2 linked regions of the Homo sapiens genome follow. The protein of the gene in region 2 interacts with the protein of the main gene of each other region in a pairwise test. Each region holds a gene or a part of one and is shown on either strand. Other genes may lie near its edges.

Evidence for each region. Proteins that work in one complex are often made in the same cells at the same time.
Region 1: the proteins of SHMT1 (region 2) and PRSS23 interact in a two-hybrid assay, tested with the Homo sapiens proteins (one large-scale study listed by BioGRID and IntAct).

Annotation. Positions count from the first base shown.
Region 1 is NC_000011.10:86,803,542-86,807,041, forward strand, and holds part of PRSS23 (serine protease 23 precursor), read left to right. Parts: intron 1-3,500.
Region 2 is NC_000017.11:18,329,049-18,333,383, forward strand, and holds part of SHMT1 (serine hydroxymethyltransferase, cytosolic), read right to left. Parts: intron 4,241-4,335; coding exon 4,118-4,240; intron 1,624-4,117; coding exon 1,507-1,623; intron 341-1,506; coding exon 230-340; intron 1-229. UniProt on the Homo sapiens protein: Interconversion of serine and glycine.

The sequences.
Region 1 (3,500 bases), on a different chromosome or scaffold from region 2:
TAATTTTAAAGCATCACAGTTTTGCATCATTTGTTGTTTTATTAATGCGGATGAGTCAGGGCAGGCTGCGAATGCCTCAGGAAAGACCCTTAATGGACAGGAGGGTTGTTTCCCCCTCAGGCTTTTCTTTGGGGCCTGTCTTAAGAGCATACACACACAGCCATCCCTCCACTCAGTTCTTGAAAGCTGCCTTCTGCTGGAGTCACAATTTGTACAATAGAGAATATATGACCTAAGGATTAGGTTTTCCCTCCCAGCACTTGTTTGCTATAGGAGTTAAATCATTCTCTCAAACAGTGGTCCTGTTGCAGACTGATCAGGGAAATCTTGTCTGCCAGATAGATGAGAAATTAGCATGATTCATTTTCCTTTTCCTTTTCCTTTCCCCCTCCTTTGCCTCCACCCTCCATAATTCCATGAATCAATGGTCCTGAGAAGTAAATGATAGTACAGACACTATAGTCAGCATCGTCCCTGACCTGGACTTACGTGATTCTGGAAAATTATAATATTAGGGAATCCTGGACCTAAAGACCAGAGCTAAAAAGACCAGCTAAAGCAATCATCTGGTTGAGGATGCTATTCAGAAGAATTTCTAAAGCACCCTAAATAAACATTTGGTAAAGGACTAAGCAACTTAAGAAGCTTGTAGCTTTAATACAGACATCAGTTTAAACCCATTTAAGGGCTTGAGAACCCACAGCTGTATCTTCTAATTTCTGATTAGATATTTTAAAAATATCTAAGCCTAATCAGTTTGAAGTAATTTGATGGGCATTAGTTTCTAAAAGTCTGCATTCATTTCTAAATCTGAATTAAACTTTTTTAAATGCAATTTTATAACTTTTAGCGTTACATGGAAGCTTTAAGCAAGATATATAATGCTGTCAGAACAAAGTCTTATCACACAAGTTAGTAAATAGGGTTTAGTAATGTGGAGAACTTGGAAGCAGAGTTGCAAACTAATAGAAATTAGGACTTATTAAGTCTCTGAAAAATTTATTCTTCAAAGTTAAAGCTTCACACTGTCCTGTTGGGTTAGCAGTTTGTTTTTTTCTTATAGATGGCTGGCTTCTCCTTCACTCCTGGCTAAATGAACAGAATTCAAGTTGTAAGAACTCTGAATTAGTAATATTCTATCATGCAGTAGACTCTTTAGCATTCTCTAACAGGATTCTGTGATTCATAACTGATCCCAAAGTTTCTTGAGACATAATCATTCATCATTTTGCCAAAGAATACATTTGATCCTCTATATTGAGAGGTTGGAGTAAGGCTGTGGCTCATGAAAGAGGATATTGTAACTGCCATGTTCTTCATGCACATTGAAAATATTATCTGTAGCTGATGATAATACATACTATAATACTACCTCATCTCCTACTCTTTCTCCCCCAAGAATCGTATTTTAAAAACAAGAACGCTTGGCAGGTTGGACCTCCGCATTCTGTGTTTTCTTTCTTAAGATAAGCTGAAGTAAAACTTGGCTTACCATGTGCTCAATGTAAGTCACATTAACATTCCCCACATTACTCAAAGGGAGGAGAGAATGGTGCGTTGAAGCCCAAGATACAGCCATGTGGGAGATATATGACTCCTCCTAGTCCCTGTCACATTTGGCAGGGATTCTGGTGTGAGTGGGGCATTTAGTCACCTAGACAGCAACTTATATAGAGAAAAGGCTGCTCAAGTCCTCGATAAGCCCAAGGGATGACTCCTTAGCCAGTAGGTGGGAATAATCAGAACCATGCCCCACAGATCTCCTAAAGGGTTGTCATCACCACACCCATTTCACTGCCAAGTTCTCCATTGGAGAGGAGGACTCAGCTAGCATTGGCATCCCCTTCCTAGTCCACTTAAAACCTTTAGTCTTGGCAATATTCCCAACAAGCACATACAAACACGTGTGTGCACATATGCGGGCACCCCATGTTTTCAAGGATTTAAAGAAATAATTAAATGTATTTCCTTCCTACAAAAGGGCTCAGGGACCCTTCCTATTTGGAAAGATGGAGACAAGTAGAATTTCAAGGAATTAGGGAGTCCCAAGGAACTGGCTTTTCCAGGACCTTATTTCTTTCTTTTCCTATCCCTATTCTCCCTGACTGAAGTGGAAGCCAAGAGAAAAAGTCAAGCAAAAAGGTCCCAGAGGTGGGTGGGGCACACACATATGTTAGAAACACAGTGTGGATATTGGGAATGAGAATGGGCATGCTCAGCTATACTACATCAGATCATTGGGATTTTCTACTTTTATATAAAAGGGAGCAAAAGGCACCCAAAGTTGCCAGTAGATCTGTACTTTCAAACAGGAAGAGAATGAGAATAACAAAACAGTTTCTTCCTAACTTCTGCTGTGTTCCCAGAGCCTCTTGAGACCCACCCCTTCCGGGTCCTTGTTTTTGGATGCTTGGTTGTGAATGAGTTACCCTACCTGCTGAGTCAGCTTCTATTGAACCAGAAGAGTCAGAGCCACTGAGAGCCAACTGATGCTTAAACATTTATGAAAGCACTTTCAGTATTCCTCGTTGTTGTTTTTCTTGTGGGATGATTGATCTGGGCATTTAAACATACCTTGCAGTATAAAATCCAAACTTCTTTGTTTAGTACACATAGCACTTCACAATCTAGCTCTTGCCTGCTGCCTCCACCACTTCCTCTACTCCACCCTTGCTGAGCTAAGTGTGATTCCCCAAATTACTCACATGGTTGCATGTTGCTGTGCCCTTGCACAGACTCTTGTTTCCCTTCCCTAAGTATCCCCTTCTCTCTGTCTTATGTTATCAGACTTCTTTTCTACTTCAGCACCCATCTGAAACATCAGGTGATGCCTGGAAAATTTCTAGGCAATTTGTTCATTTAGAGGGTAAATTTAAATTACATAGCTTACTGAATGACCGAAGCATCAAGGAGGGACAGCTCCACGGTGTCACCTTTACTAGGACTCCTATTGCTTCTAAATGGTGGGTACATTTGAAAAGAACGGGTGCATTTGCCAAATAATACATTTGGTCCTCTATATTGAGAGGTTGGAGCGAGGCTGTGGCATACTATTTCTCAAGCATCACTTCTCCTAGAAGGCCTCTCTTGTTCTTACTCCCACAATTGGCCTCAAGCTGTTTCTCTGAGCTACCGCATCATCCATGTACATCATTGTCATTAGCGTCAGCATGCAACATTCATTCACTTTTCCATTAATACAAGCATCCATTTAACAAATCTTTGTCGAGTGCTAGCACAGGCCCAAATTTAAGAGATTTAGTTGGTAATACAGATATAAACAACTGAAAAAGTAACCAATGGTAACAGTTCATAGTGTTATAGCTGATGCAATATTAGAGCTTTAGATATTGACAAAGATCCTGGTAGTGTACAACATAATCCAAAGGAAGAAGGAATATTTTATTAGAAGCCTAGCCACTCTGGAACTCAATATATATAATAGTAAAGGTTGTTGTAAATTCAAAGCAAAAAACAAAACAAAACAAAAAATCTCATAC
Region 2 (4,335 bases):
TTACCTCAATTACTCTGAGATGCACCCACCCTTGGACAGATGTCCTGGGCAGCCCAAATTTATAACCCTCTCAGACAAGGTGATTTACATGTGTTTTTTGCTGTCTCCCACCCCAACACTCAGCCTTGGTGCAGAATTGTCTTTCAGTGGCAGGGTCTCAGCTACTCATCACAATCAGAAACTAAATACACACAATAAGATGTGGCAACTTCCAAACTTTTATCCTTACCTCTGTGAATAAAGTGGGCTACTTTTTGGAAGTCTTTTTCCAAAAGTCCACGGGACGTCAGTGCTGGGGTCCCCAGCCGCAGTCCACTGGGCCGCAGAGCGCTTCTGTCACCTACAAGATAAACGGGGCTCTGTCCCTAAGTCACATTGTCACCACTGTGATGGTGGTGCATTTAAAAAGGGACATGTGGGCAAAAGAGAACTGGCCTGAGGATACTGGCTGTCCCTAGCAAGGAGTACAACTGATTCAGAAACTAAAGTAGAACCCAAGGCACAAGGAGGCACAACCACGTTTGGCCACTCTGACTTAATTACTAGTACACAAAGTGGTCTGATGTGCCCCTTGCTCCTAAAAATGAGGGTAACATCTGTCTGGGTCTGAGATGCGTCATCAATATTTTGTTAACAACCCACAGAGAAATGCAGCCTCTGGATTCCGGAGGCCCTGACCTCCCTCATCTGATGAATGTACCACCTCCAACAGCTCTACATCAGTCTTTTTGCTCCCTGGCAGGGTCAGGGCCAAGTACAAAGGCACAGCCAAGAGACAGCCAAGGTATGGTCCCTGCCCCCGCTCCATTTTTTGTTTTTGTTTTTGTTTTTTTGAGACGGAGTCTCACTGTCGCCTAAGCTGGAGTGCAGTGGCGCAGTCTCGGCTCAATGCAGCCTCTGCCTCCTGGGTTCAAGCAATTCTTCTGCCTCAGCCTCCTGAGTAGCTGGGACCGTGGTGTGTGCCACCACAGCATTTTTAGTAGAGACAGGGTTTCACCGCGTTAGCCTTCTCAATCTCCTGACCTCGTGATCCACCCACCTCGGCCTCCCAAAGTGCTGGGATTACAGGTGTGAACCACTGCACCTGGCCCAGTTTTTTTTTTTTTAGACAGAGTCTCATTCTGTTGCTAAGGCTGGAGTGCAGTGGTACAATCTCCACTCACTGCAACCTCTGCCTCCCGGGTTCAAGCGACTCTTCTGCCTCAGCCTTCCAAGTAGCTGGGATTACGGGCATGCACCACCATGCCCAGCTAATTCTTCTATTTTTAGTAGAGACAGGATTTCACCATTTTGGCCAGGCTGGTCTCGAATTCCTGACCTCAAGTGATCCGCCTGCCTCGGCCTCCCAAAGTGCCGGGATTACAGGCGTGAGCCACCGTGCCCAGCCCCCACTACAGTTTTTATGTGAGGTCTGTCCCCGGAGCCAATATATTCATCAGCTACAACTTTGGCCAGAAGAAATGCAGATGGGAGAGGAGTGAAGGAGAAGGCAAGGATGATTCTCACCTGGACAGGTGTTCTTGTTGCAGGCAATAGAACAGGCTTCTAGCACCTTCTCAGCCCTTCCACCATCTGTGCCTTTGGAACGGAGATCCACAAGGATCAAATGGTTGTCAGAACCACCTGGAAACAAAGTTGGACATGTAGAAATGCAGGCGAATTCTATGCCGTGAAGGAATCTCTGAGAAACGAAGGCGAGGATGAAGGCAGTCAAAGCAGATGAGGTCAGGAAGGTGAGCACCCCCACCACATGGCCTGGGATTCTAATCCCCACGAGAGATGCCCGTGCCTAAGAATGTGAAAGGAAGGACAGAGCACTTTTGAAAGGGGTAACTGATCATACAGCAGAGGGCCTGACACTCCCATGGGGAAGGGACAGCTTCCTCAGGCTGCTCCTGGCTTGTTTTCTCTGACAAGTTGCTTGGGCAATTCCCTAACATTGATGGTAAAGGCTCCCCTGAAGGCAGCATGAATATTGGGCAGCAGTTCAATTTACTTTGGGGGGTAAGGGGCATGTTCACAGAGCACATTAGGTGCCAGACACTGTAGCCTGTGGTAGGTTTTTCCCGGATCCTGTGAGGCTGATGGTATTATCAAAGTGGTAAGGTGACAACAGCAAGGCTAACAGAGTTTTCTGGACCTGGCCCGAGGTCATACAGGAGGATCCTTCCACTTTGAACCTTCATTAAGCTGGGGTAGTGCCTTGGGTGCTGACAGCACTGGGGCCTCTGCTTCTGAGCTGTGTTGCGGGGATCCCTTTCAAGATGCGGGTGAGCTAGGGCTCCAGCTTGGCTTTGCAGCCCCCCAGCTGTGCCCACCCACTTGCCGTGTGGCTTTAGGCAGGCAGCTCAACATTGTGAAACCTCAGATGCCCATTTGTAACAAAAAGACCAATAATTCACAGGGCTGTCATGAAGTTTAAGTAAGATACTGGACATAGTGCTTCTCATAGCACCAGGCACCAAAGAGGGCATTTGCAAGCATTATCTGTCTCAGCCATGTGCATCGGGTCCTCAGATGGCAGAGTGACAATGACACAGTCACCAGGGAGAGGGCAGGCCCATGCCATGAGATGCCCATGGTGACAGGGACTATGGCCTAAACCCTCACAACTCCAAGGGTGGCTCCCAGACCAGCATCACCCAAGGCCTGGTCAGAATCTGCATTGCACCAACAGCCCCAGGGGTGGTGTGCACATTGAAGTTTAAGAAACAGGGACCTAAAGCAGTGGTCCCCAACCTTTTTGGCACCAGGAACTGGTTATGTGGAAGACAGTTTTTTCACGGATGGCATCGGGGGATGGTTTTGGGATGAAACTTCCACCTCAGATCATCGGGCATTAGATTCTCATAAGGATGCAGGTATAATCAGAAGGAAAAAAAAGATAGTTTCTTGAAAGTGTCTAGGCCCAACCTAGATCCCTCACATGTGCAGTTCAAACCAGCGTTCAGCTCCTCTGAGAATCTAATGCTGCCACTGATCTGACAGGAGGCGGAGCTCAGGTGGCAATGCTCTCGGCCCAGCTCACTTCCTGCTGTGCGGCCAGGTTCCTAACAGACCACAAACCAGTACTAGTCCGTGGCCCGGAGGTTGGGGACTCCTGAGCTAAAGCACCCTGAAGTTCACAGTCTGCACGAGGACTTCTTGAGCTTTATTATTTGAAGACATGGAGGATGAAGGGAGAACAGAAAGTAAGTGAAGTAGAACATAAAAGAGGGTACGGCTGGTACTGCTGAGGAGACAGCACTGGCCCGGCCTTCCCAGGCACTGCCGCACATGCAGGATTGGGTGGGAGCCCCACTCCTTAGACCAGGAGGCCTGTAATCCCTCCCCAATCCTTAGATCAGAGGGCCTGTAATCCCTGTAAAGGGCAAAGGACACGGTGCAGAGAGTGGGCACTCAGGTCTACACACAGCAGGACCCATATTCCTGGACCACACCACTGCTAGCACAATCGGCAGTCTTGTGGGACTAGGTATAAAGTCGCCCTTCCTCCGGAGGACTGAGTATGCTGCCTGCCAAAAAAATGCGTTCTCCGTGGAAAGCTGCAGTGACTGTGAGGTGGATGGCACCCCAGAGTGGGGCCCTGACCTGGGAAGTCCATCTCATTCACAGCCCATCAGCTCCAGAATGTACAGATCCAAGCAAACATGCCTAAAGCAAGCCAACTCCCCAGGAATATGCAGGAAACTGGGAGGGGAGAGCCCCTGCACCCCCAGCTCAGCGGGGTGAGAGAAGACACTCCCCTGGCACAGTGCAAGGCATCACCACACAGTCCTGGTGCCACCTACCAGGTGTGTGACCACTACAGCCCAACCTCTCAGTTGAGCCTCAGGTCATCCTCCTGCAAAGCTGTTCTGAGGACAAGCAGTCCTTATGCTGGTGACCAATGGCAACCACTATTCCCATCATCTGTGGCTCACCCAAGGGGGCGGCTGGCTGGTCTGAGGCAGGGGGAGGCTTTCCAGTTGGAGGCGAGGCTGACCTCCTCCCAAGGTGGGCCCATCATTGCAGCTGCAGCAGCAGAGCCTGGGCCACATCCTGGTTGCACAAACTGAGAAGCAAGCCTTAATACAACCACAAGAACAGGCCTGCTGAACACCATCTGTGTCTCTACCTGTGACTATTTTGTAGCCCAGCTCCGTCAGGGCCTCAGACAGAGCCCTGCAGTTGGCCACCACCTGGTGTTGATAAACTTTAAATTCCAGAGTCATAGCTTGCTTCAGTGCCACAGCAACCCCTGGACAAGAAGAGACAATGGGTCAGGAGGCTAGGATAGAATCATACACAGATGATGAGTCAAACAACATTCCTGTTTTTACTCAAGCTTCCTTG